Linked DNA regions of Homo sapiens: region 2 is linked to region 1. The links come from fine-mapping of genetic effects on gene expression. A gene starts in region 1. The other region holds a variant in brackets. All regions are shown on one strand. Distances are from middle to middle. Region 1 holds the start of ZNF345 (zinc finger protein 345). Region 2 has its middle 27 kb from the start of ZFP30.

What was found. PIP is the estimated chance that this variant, and not a neighbour inherited with it, causes the effect. A credible set is the group of variants that fine-mapping cannot tell apart.
Region 2: its variant is the best candidate, but not a certain one, in a credible set for the expression of ZNF345 in visceral fat (GTEx, PIP 0.79).

Annotation. Positions count from the first base shown.
Region 1 is chr19:36,848,440-36,853,823 of GRCh38, reverse strand. ZNF345 (zinc finger protein 345) reads right to left here and starts at 2,948. Exons shown (of 3, transcript NM_001242472.2): 1 at 2,856-2,948; 2 at 1,920-1,994. It also overlaps a transcript of ZNF790 not described here. RefSeq lists an enhancer at 3,186-3,425.
Region 2 is chr19:37,679,486-37,684,869 of GRCh38, reverse strand. It overlaps the pseudogene ZNF781. Among named protein-coding and RNA genes, the nearest start is that of ZFP30, 27 kb to the right of the region's middle. The variant T/C (reference allele first, on the strand shown) is at 2,791.

The DNA of each region.
Region 1 (5,384 bases):
AAATACAAAGTTACAGTGAGTAAGACAGTATGTTATTACTGCGAGGAGTGACAAATAGACCAGTGGAACAGAATCCAGAAATAGACATAGACATATATGTTCACTTGATTTTTTTACTAAAATGGCACTGCATATCAGTGCAGAAAATATGAACTTTCCAATAAATGATACTATAATAACTGGATACACACTCGGGAGAAAAATGAAATTCAATCCTACCCTATAAAAATTCCAGGTGGTGTAAAGACCTAAACATTAAAGCCTACCCTAGAAAGCTTTCGGCTTGGCCAGGTGCGGTGGCTTATGCCTGTAATCCCAGCACTTTGGAAGGCTGAGGTAGGCAGATCACCTAGTTCCAGGCCAGCCTGACCAACATGGAGAAACCCTGTCTCTACTAAAAATACAAAATTAGCCAGGTATGGTGGTGCATGCCTGTAATCCCAGCTACTTGGGAGGCTGAGGCAGGACAATCACTTGAACCCAAGAGGCGGAGGTTGTGGTGAGCCGAGATCATGCCATTGCACTCCAGCCTGGGCAATAAGAGCGAAACTTCGAGTCAAAAAAAAAAAAAAAAAAAAGAAAGAAAGAAAGCAAGCTTTTGGCTTTAAGACCAAAGAAAATCTTCATTATCTTGAGGTAGACAAAAATTTCTTAAACAAGACTAACCATAGGAAATGATTTTATTACAATGAAATCCAGAACTTCTATTTGTCAAAAGGCACCACATAGAGTGAAAAGTCAAACCAGAGCAGGTGAAAATACTTATCACACATACAACTGAAAAAAGATTAATTTACAGAAGATATATACACATATGTACAACTGCCGTAAATCAGAGAAAAACCCAATTAAAAATTGGTCAAATATTTGAACAACACCTTATAAAAGGGGACATTCAACTGCACTCCAGCCTGGGCAATAGAGACTCAGTCTCAAAAAAAAAAAACAAAAAAAACAAAAAAGGGGACATTCAAATGGCCAAGAATCAATGCTCAACTTTATTAGCAATAAAGGAAATTTAAATTAAATATAACATTAGACACCCACCAGATTGGCAAAAATTTAAGAGTTTTATGATGTCTAGCATGGATGTGGAGCTAAGAAAACTCTTGTAAACTGCTGGCATAAGTACAGTATCTTTAGAGAACAGTTTGGCAATGTTTGGTAAAACTGAAGATGTACAAACCCTACCTATTAGCACTTTTTTTTTTTTTTTTTGAGATGGAGTCTCACTCTGTCACCAGGCTGGAGGGCAGTGGCACAATCTTGGCTCACTGCAACCTCTGCCTCCCGGGTTCAAGCGATTCTCCTCAGCCTCCCAAGTAGCTGGGACTACAGGCGCGTGCCACCACGCCCAGCTAATTTTTGTGTTTTTAGTAGAGACGGGGTTTCCTCATGTTGGCCAGGATGATCTTGATCTCTTGACCTCGTGATCCGCCCGCCTTGGCCCCCCAAAGTGCTGGGATTACAGGCATGAGCCACTGCATCCAGCCACTATCAGCAATTTAATCACTAGGTATATATTCTAAAGAAATGCAAGCAAATGTGTACCAAAATATGCGCACAAAATGATCATAGTCACACTGCCTGTAGTAGCCAAAAATTACAAGACAAATGTCCATCAAGAGTAGAAGGATAAGGCCGGGCACAGCAGCTCACGCCTGTAATTCTGTCTCAAAAAAAAAAAAAAAAAAAGAAAGAAAGAAAAAAAAAAGAAAAAGAAAAATTAAAACCATCTGACAAATCAGTAAGGGAAAATCAGGTGTGGGAGGTGGGGTTTGAAGACACCACATTTTCTCAAAATGGAAACTCCAGGGATCAGGTCATCTCATAGGCAAGAATTTTCAAGAGAAGGAAAGCAACTATGTCCTGACAAAGAAAAAGGGATTTTTCTTAAACAAGAGGACAGGACAAGCTACCTTGCAGGTGCCTTGTGGATGTTCAACAGCCATTCTTTACTCCTGTTCGGAGGCCTCTATCCAAGCAGGGCAGGGCTGAGGAAGGAGAAAGCAGTCAGGAAACATCAGGTTCTTCTGAGAGGGAGTTGGTTTGACTATGTCAGAAGTTATCTTTGCTCAGCCCCTACTGCCCATCACCTACAGAGGAAGGTCAGAGAAGTCTAGGGCATCCTGCTTAATCCGGGCATCACAGACAACGGTAGGGTCAATGCCGTTCTGGGCAGAACCTGTCCCTGAGCTCACAGGGGTCTCCAATGGCTGAAGTCACAAAGACAAAGACTCCCCATACCTACATTGGCTATACGGACACATAGTCACACAAACTCACTCACACCGCAGGGACATAAACGTCACAGGCACCCCAAACCTAAACACAACACACAATCACACACTCATACACACCACGGGGGTAGACACGGACACAACCACAGAGTCCGTGGGCATCTCTCAAATTCCCAGTGACATACACCTTGGGGTCACAATGACAACAAATTCACACGCACCCTCCATCAACAATATCACCAACGCGCGCGCACACACACACACGGAAGCAGCCACAAACCTCAAAATTAAGGCATACTACACACAGTTCGGCAAATGGTAGTAAACACACACACACACACCCCAAGGGGACATACAGTCACAACCGCGGTCCAGGAACCTCACACTCGCAAACACAGTGCCCAACCCGGTCACAATTAAACTCTACTCACACCCGCACAAACATAAACAAAAAGTCCTCCTCCCCGCCCTCACAGTTCCATACACGGTCGCACAGACACACGCCCCCAGTCACAACCGTACACACTCCTCACAATCGCTCCTTAGCCTGTTCCCCACGCAGCCCACACAGGTCGGGAGTTCCTGTCGCGCCAGGCTCCGAGCCGCCTCACTTACGCCTGTTCGGATAGGGTCAGCTCCGTTCTACTAGAATCCACACAAGTCGACCCTAGCTATCTCACAAAGCCCCAAGGCCGCTTGCCCAAATCCGCGGGAAGATCCCGCCCACTCCTCAAGAGACAATCTAGTTATCGCGGGAGAGTGCCCTGGGCCTAGAGGCTTCTGGGAAGTGTAGTCCAGAAAGCGACAGGTTGCCGAAAGCTACAGCCCAGCCATCCCGATTCCCCTGGCGCGGACTCTGGCACCAACAAAACTATCTCTTTGAGGTGAGCTGCCCATCGGAGCCTTCCGGGAGTCTCACCTGACAAGGAGTCCCTAGACCAAGCTTTAGTCAGGCTCCTCTGAGCCCTTTTTGCTTGGCCAGGCCTCCTCCATAGCCTGCGAACAGCACTTCAGCAAGAATCCAGCTAAGCCAGTTTAGTAACAATCCCCCCACTCTTGATACTTAACTTCCTCTTAGTAATTTAGCATCCTTTAACTCCTTCACCCAGCCCGTTAGCTATAAATCTCCAGCTGCTGTTGTATTGGAAGTTGACTATTGCAATAGTCTTTAACCAAGTCCTTCTTGCCTGTTTAAGTCCTCTGGGGCAAGCTTTCTTTCACCCCGCCCAGCCTCAGAGGGCGGCTCCCGGGCTTCCGCCCCTCCTCGGGAGACATACTGGACCGCAGGGTCTCCTGGGAAACGTAGTCCAAGCCTCGCCGGGGATAGATGGGCCCAACTAAAGTGTGCTGCGTTCTCTGGGTCCTGAGGCGGCAGTCTGGCCGCAGTGACCAGACTAACTGTGCCCCGGAGGCTGCTTGGAATTCCACTTAACGCTGGAAGCACGCAGACGCTCTTGAGGCGGGCAGCTGCGTAGCGTGTGGAGGAGCCGGGAGAGCGCACCCCAATGTGGCACCTGAGCGTCTGGGACCGAACCAGCATGGGGAGTCGGAAGGGGACAAATCCGCGATCCCAGTCATGCATGTGAGACTGGGCAAAGGAAGGCTCGAGTGTGTGTGAGACCGCGGTGGGCCTGCTTGTGCTGGTGGGATGAGGGGTGTCTGGGTAGTTGAGTGAAAGAAACCGCGTGCGGGTCAGATTGGTGTGTGTGTGAGAGAAGTGAGGTCAAGATGTGTGCAGCTTTGGGCGTGGGGAGGTCATATTGAGTGTGTGGAGGTGGGGGGGGCAAGATCGTGTATGGATCTGTGTATGAGTGTGTGTAATCACCTGAATGTGGGTCACTGCGTGGGTAGCTGATACTATGACTGTGGAGGAATCTGAACCTCCAAGTCTCATTTTCTCTTTAAATTGTGATAACAAGGTTGTATCTTCCTGGTGCAGCAGTTTTAAAGGGGGGAAGCTCCATTACTGATATAATAAAATAGCATTTTTTATGTAAACATTTAACATTCAGACATTTCTTCTGAACTAGAGTACAAAATCAGTTATGAGTACTCCAAGTAGTTTAAAAAAGAAACCCGTCATAATAGATGCATATGGGGAAGATAAATAGTGAAAGGGGAACTTCCTTTTCACTATACTCTTGTTAAATTTTTAAAATCAATGTGAGGACTCATTTGAAAACAAATATAAAATTAAAAAACTGACAGAAAGGGGAGCTAGGAGGAAATCAATAATTTTTTAAGCTAGAAACTTTGGGAGGTGGTAGAGGTTGCCGAAATATGATGGCAGGAAGTGTATGACAACAGGAAATGCTGATGTAAAATATAATCCTGAAGCTTTTAACAATGGCAGGAAGGGCCGGGCATGGTGGTTCATGCCTGTGATCTCAGCACTTTGGAAGGCTGAGGCAGGAGGATCACTTGAGCTCAGGAGTTTGAGACCAGCCTGAACAGCATACTCTCTACAAACAAAACAAAACAAAAAAACCAAGCATGAGTGCGGTGGCTCACGCCTGTAATCCCAGCACTTTGGGAGACTGAAGTGGGTGGATCACTTGAGCCCAGGAGTTCAAGACCAGCCTGGCCAATATGGTGAAACCCCGTCTCTACTAAAAATACAAAATTAGCTGGGCGTGGTGGTGTGCACCTGTAATCCCAGCTACTTTGGAGGCTGACGCAGGAGAATGGCTTGAACCCGGCAGACAGAGGTTGCAGTGAACTGAGATCGCACCACTGCACTCCAGCCTGGATGACAGAGTGAGACTCCGTCTCAAAAAACCCCCAAAAAACAAGGGGACCTCCTCTTTCGGCTTTGGAGCCACCACCCCCCCAACCCCCATCTCTGTATGGGGGAACTTCTTCCTTCTGTCTTCTCCCTTCCTTCTTGCCTATTAAACTCTCCGCTCCTTAAAACAAAACAAAATACAACAAACAAACAAACAAAAAGACCCAAAAAACAAAAACAACAAAATTTGGACTATACAGGCAAGCGATCTATACCTAATGTGGCTCTGTTGCTCTAGTTCTCCAGCATCACATTCCTGTACAGCTCCATCTGAACATCTTTTAATTATGGCTAAGGCTCTTGGTTGAGTGAGGCAATCACATTTTTGTATGTTTACCCCACCAATGTCTCCTAAAAAA
Region 2 (5,384 bases), 830 kb before region 1:
CCTGCCTCAGCCTCCGGAGTGGCTGGGACTACAGGTGCCCGCCACCACACCCGGCTAATTTTTTTTTATTTTTAGTAGAGACGGGGTTTCACCGTGTTAGCCAGGATAGTCTCGATCTCCTGATCTCGTGATCCACCCGCCTCAGCCTCCCAAAATGCTGGGATTACAGGCATGAGCCACCACTCCCAGCCAAATTATAGGTTCTTTTAAAGACCTGCCCCCTTACGTAGTAATTCGTCACGTATATCTTTCCTTTTTACTTAAAATGTTTGGTCATAGCTGTTAATGGTAGTGCAGTCATCTGTCATGTAACTGTTCTGTGATATATTCTTGTGTTCACTAAATTTTGCACTTTTCTAGGTTTCGTTTATTGATAACTTCCCAAGTATAGAATTTTTAGGTAAAATATTAAGCATTTATTAATGCCAGGAATATCAATGATTCTGTGCTAATACTTGGGAGAAATGAAGTGATTAGAAAGCCCTAGTTAAGTTTCTCTCAATCTAGCAAGGGACATATAATCTATACAGAAATAGATTAAAGTGTGACAGGAACTAGCGAAACACAGATGCTTTTCCTTGTGGGCTCATGGGAAGGTGACATTCTGACCACAGTAACCTCTGCTGTTTTATGAGAAAACCATCTTGAATACATAGAAACTCTGGAGATAAAGAGATTTTGTGTCGTAAGCGTTATGCCATGTAATTTTTTTTTTTTTTGAGACTAAGTCTTTCTCTGTCGTCCAGGCTGGAGTACAGTGGTGCAATCTCGGCTCACTGCAACGTCCACTGGCTGGATTCAAGCAATTCCCCTAGCCTCAACCGCCCGAATAGCTGGGATTACAGGCACCCATCACCATGCCTGGCTAATTTTTTTTCTATTTTTAGTAGAGACAGGGTTTCACCATGTTGGCCAGGCTGGTCTTGAACTCCTAACCTCAGGTGATCCGCCCACCTTGGCCTCCCAAAGTGCTGGGATTACAGACGTGAGCCACTCCACCCGGCCTTATGCCATGTAATTTTTAAATAAAGTTTTTTTGTAAATAAAGTTTATTTTTGTAAATAAACTTTTAATGTTAGATATACAGTCAGACGTCACCTAAGAACAGGGATACATTCTTCTGTTGTTAGGTAATGTTGTTGTTAGGTGATGTCATCATTGTGTGAACATCAGAGGGTGGACTTACATACACCTAGATGGGATAGCCTACTACACACCCAGGCTATATAGTATAGCCTGCAGCTCCTAGGCCACCAGCCTGTATAGAATTTTACTGTACTGAATACTGTAGATAGTTGCAACACAATGATTTTATGTATCTAAATATATCTAAATACAGAAAAGGTACAGTAAAAATATGGTATAGGCCAGGCGCAGTGGCTCACGCCTGTAATCCCAACACTTTGGGAGGCCAAGGCAGGTGGATCATGAGGTCAGGAGTTCGAGACCAGCCTGGCCAACGTGGCGAAACCCCGTCTCTACTAAAAATACAAAAATTAGCTGGGTGTGGTGGCAGGTGCCTGTAATCCCAGCTACTCGGGAGGCTGAGGCAGGAGAATCGCTTGAACCTGGGTGGCGGAGGTTGCAGTGAGCCAAGATTGTACCATTGCACTCCAGACTGGGTGACAAGAGCAAGACTCCATCTCAAAAAAAAAAAAAAAAAAAGGTATAAAAAGTAAACAATGGTACACCTGTACAGGGCATTTACCATGAATGGAGCTTGCAGGACTGAAAGTTGCTCTAGGTGAGTCAGTAAGTGAATGGTGAGTGAATGTGAAGGCTAGGACAGTACCATACCCCACTATAGACTAGAAACACTGTATACTTAGGCTACACTAAATATGTGAAAATTTTTTTCTTCAATAATAAATTAACTTTAGCTTACTGTAACTTTTTTTACTTTATGAACTTCTTGATTTTTTAAAACTTGTTGACTCTTCTTTTTTGGAAATGGGGTCTCACTCTGTCTCCCAGGCTGGAATGCAGTGGTGCGATTATGGCTCACTGCAGCCTTGACCTGCTGGGCTTAAGCCATCCTCCCGCCACAGCCTCCTGTGTAGCTGGGACTATAGGCACGCACCATCATGCCCAGCTAATTTTTGTATTGTTTGTAGAGATGGGGTTTTACCATGTTGCCTGGGCTTAGTGGTGTTTTTTATGATGGTAAAAGATAGTATATCCTCAATGCAAAAATTCAGAAAATGTGGAAAATCACAAAGTAAAGATTACCTATAGTACGACAACAACGAAAAATCTTTCCAGATCTTATATATATCCACACACGTGTGGGTTTTCTGCCAAAAGTGGTTGACAGTCACTCTTCTGTTTGATAACTCTAGGATGACAATGACTATTCCGTTTAATAATGCTCTCTGTTCACTAGAAAATTGAGGTAAAAGATTTTTCATGTTACAAATTAAGGAGAAACTTTTTTTTTTTTTTTTGAGATTTGAGATGGGGTCTCCCTTTGTCTCCCAGGCTGGAGTGCAATGGTGCAATCATAACTCACTGCAGCCTCAATGTCCTGGGCTCAAGGATTCTCCTGCTTCAGCCTCCCAAGTAGTTAGGACTATAGGTGTGGGCTACCACACCTGGCTAGTTTATATATATATATTTTAGAGACAGGGGGTCTCTCTACATTGCCCAGGCTGGTCATGAATTCCTGGTTTCGAGTGATCCTCCCACCTCGGCCTCCCAAAGTGCTGGAATTACAGGTGTGAGTCACTGCGCCCCACCCCAAAGCTATCTTTTTTTTTTTTTTTTTTTTTTTGAGATGGGGCCTCACTCTGT[T/C]GCCCAGGCTGGAGTGCAGTGGCATGATCTTGGCTCACTGCAACCTCCGCCTCCTGGGTTCAAGTGATTCTTCTGCCTCAGCCTCCTGAGTAGCTGGGACTACAGGTGCACGCCACCACACCCAGCTAATTTTTTTTGTATTTTTAGTAGAGACGGGGTTTCACCATGTTGGCCAGGATGGTCTCGATTTCCTGACTTGGTGATCCGCCTGCCTCGGCCTCCCAAAGTGCTGAGATTGCAGGCATGAGCCACCGTGCCTGGCAAAGCTATCAGTTTTATGATTATCTTGTTTTTCATTATATTAATACAATAATGGTTTGTTAAACTGTTTCCTCTTTGTACACATTTAAATCTTCATTTGAATAGAATCTAAGATGTATAATTGCTGAGTTTAAGGCATGCCTGTACATGCTCATACATTTTTCTAAATATAATCTTATGTGCAGGATGCCCTGAGATTATTTCTCATGTAATCATATGGGGTGTAACCAGTTGTCTCATTTTGCTAATCTCATAACTGGGAAATGATATTTCTTTGTTGCTCTACTGTGGGCGGCAAGCCACCCAGGCGCCGAGGCAAGAGATCGAGGACACGAGCTGTTCCAGTATAATAAAATATAAAACAAGAATAGTTATACCAGATATAGATCTTAGAGATATATGAATATCATTAATCATTAGTTTCTAGTAATTACTCTTTATCCCAATATTATAATAATCCTCGCTCTACAATCATAACCTAGGAAAAACCAGGCCATACAGAGATAGAAGCTGAGGGGACATAGTGAGGTGTGACCAGAAGAGAAGAGTGCGAGCCTTCTGTTATGCCCGGACAGGGCCAGCAGAAGGGTTCCTTGGTCTAGCGGTAACGCCAGTGTCTGGGAAGACGCCCGTTGCCGAGCGGACGGTGGTCTAGCAGTAGCGAAAAGTGTCAAGGAACAATACCTGCTACTTAGCAGACCGGGAAAGGGAGGCTCCCTTTCCCCGGGGGAGTTTAGAGAAGACTGTGCTCCTCCACCTCTTGTGGAGGGCCTGACATCAGTCAGGCTTGCCCGCAGTTATCCAGAGGCCTGACCGTCTCCCTGTGATGCTGTGCTTCAGTGGTCACGCTCCTAGTCCGCCTTCATGTTCCATCCTGTACACCTGGCTCTGCCTTCTAGATAGCAGTAGTCAATTAGTGAAAATACTAATAGTCCCTGATATGCAGAAATAATGGCGTAAGCTGTCTTTCTCTCTGTCTCCTCTCCCTCTCTGCCTCGGCTGCCAGGCAGGGAAGGGCCCCCTGTCCAGTGGACACGTGACCCACGTGACCTTACCTATCATTGGAGGCGACTCACATTCTTTACCCTGCCCCTTCTGCCTTGTATCCAATAAATAACAGCACAGCCAGACATTCGGGGCCACTACCGGTCTCCGCGCATTGGTGGTAGTGGTCCCCCGGGCCCAGCTGCCTTTTCTTTTATCTCTTTATCGTGTGTCTTTATTTCTACACTCTCTCGTCGCCGTGCACAGGGAGAGACCCACCGACCCTGTGGGGCTGGTCCCTACACTCTACCATTCAAATCCTTGATTTCAAGTAGCATCTTACCTCTCTATTGAAATTTCTTTAGTAGTTGTTGTTTTAGAATTCTTCAAATTTATTTGCATCTTCTGCAAGGAAGTCTTCAAATTTATTTGTATCCTCTTTATTAAGATAGAGCGGGGGTCCCCAAAACCTGGGCCACAGACCAGTACTGGTCCTTGGCCTGTGAGGAACCAGGCCACACAGCAGGAGGTGAGTGGCAAGCAAGTGAGCAAAGCTTTCTCTGTATTTACAACCGCTCCTTATCACTCACATTACTGCCTGAGCTCCACCTCCTGTCAGATCAGCGGCGGCATTTGATTCTCATAGGAGCGTGAACCCTATTGTGAGCTGTGCATGTGAGGGATCTAGGTTGTGGGCTCCTTATGAGAATCTAATGCCTGATGATCTGTCACTGTCTCTCATCACCCCCAGATGGGACTGTCTAGTTGCAGAAAACAAGCTCAGGGCTCCCACTGATTCTACATTATGCTGAGTTGTATAATTATTCCATTATATATTACAATGTAATAATAATACAAATAAAGTGTACAATAAATGTAATGCACTTGAATCATCCTGAAACCACCCTGTCCCTACTCTGTGGAAAAATTGTCTTCATGAAACCAGTCCCTGATGCCAAAAATGTTGGGGACCGCTGAGATGGAGGTACTCCCTGCCCATCTTTACTGAGGTATAATTGACACATAAAAATTTTATATATTTAAATATATATTTATATATTTAATCTTTTGATAGAAATGTACATTGTGAAGTCATTGCCACTATCAAGCTAATTAACATATTCATTACACGATAGAGGTTTTAATAAGATATTTTGGGAAGATTCCCTCAAATGTTCCATTTTATTTTGTGAAAAGAGAAACTGTACTAAGAACTTTAGAGACTATCAGCCTCAAAGATTTGCTAAGATGCAGAAAAGCTGTTATTCTTACAGTTATGGTTTATTCTAGTAAAAGGATACATACTAAAGTCACCAGAAAGAAAAGGTACATGGACAAAGGTTAGGAGA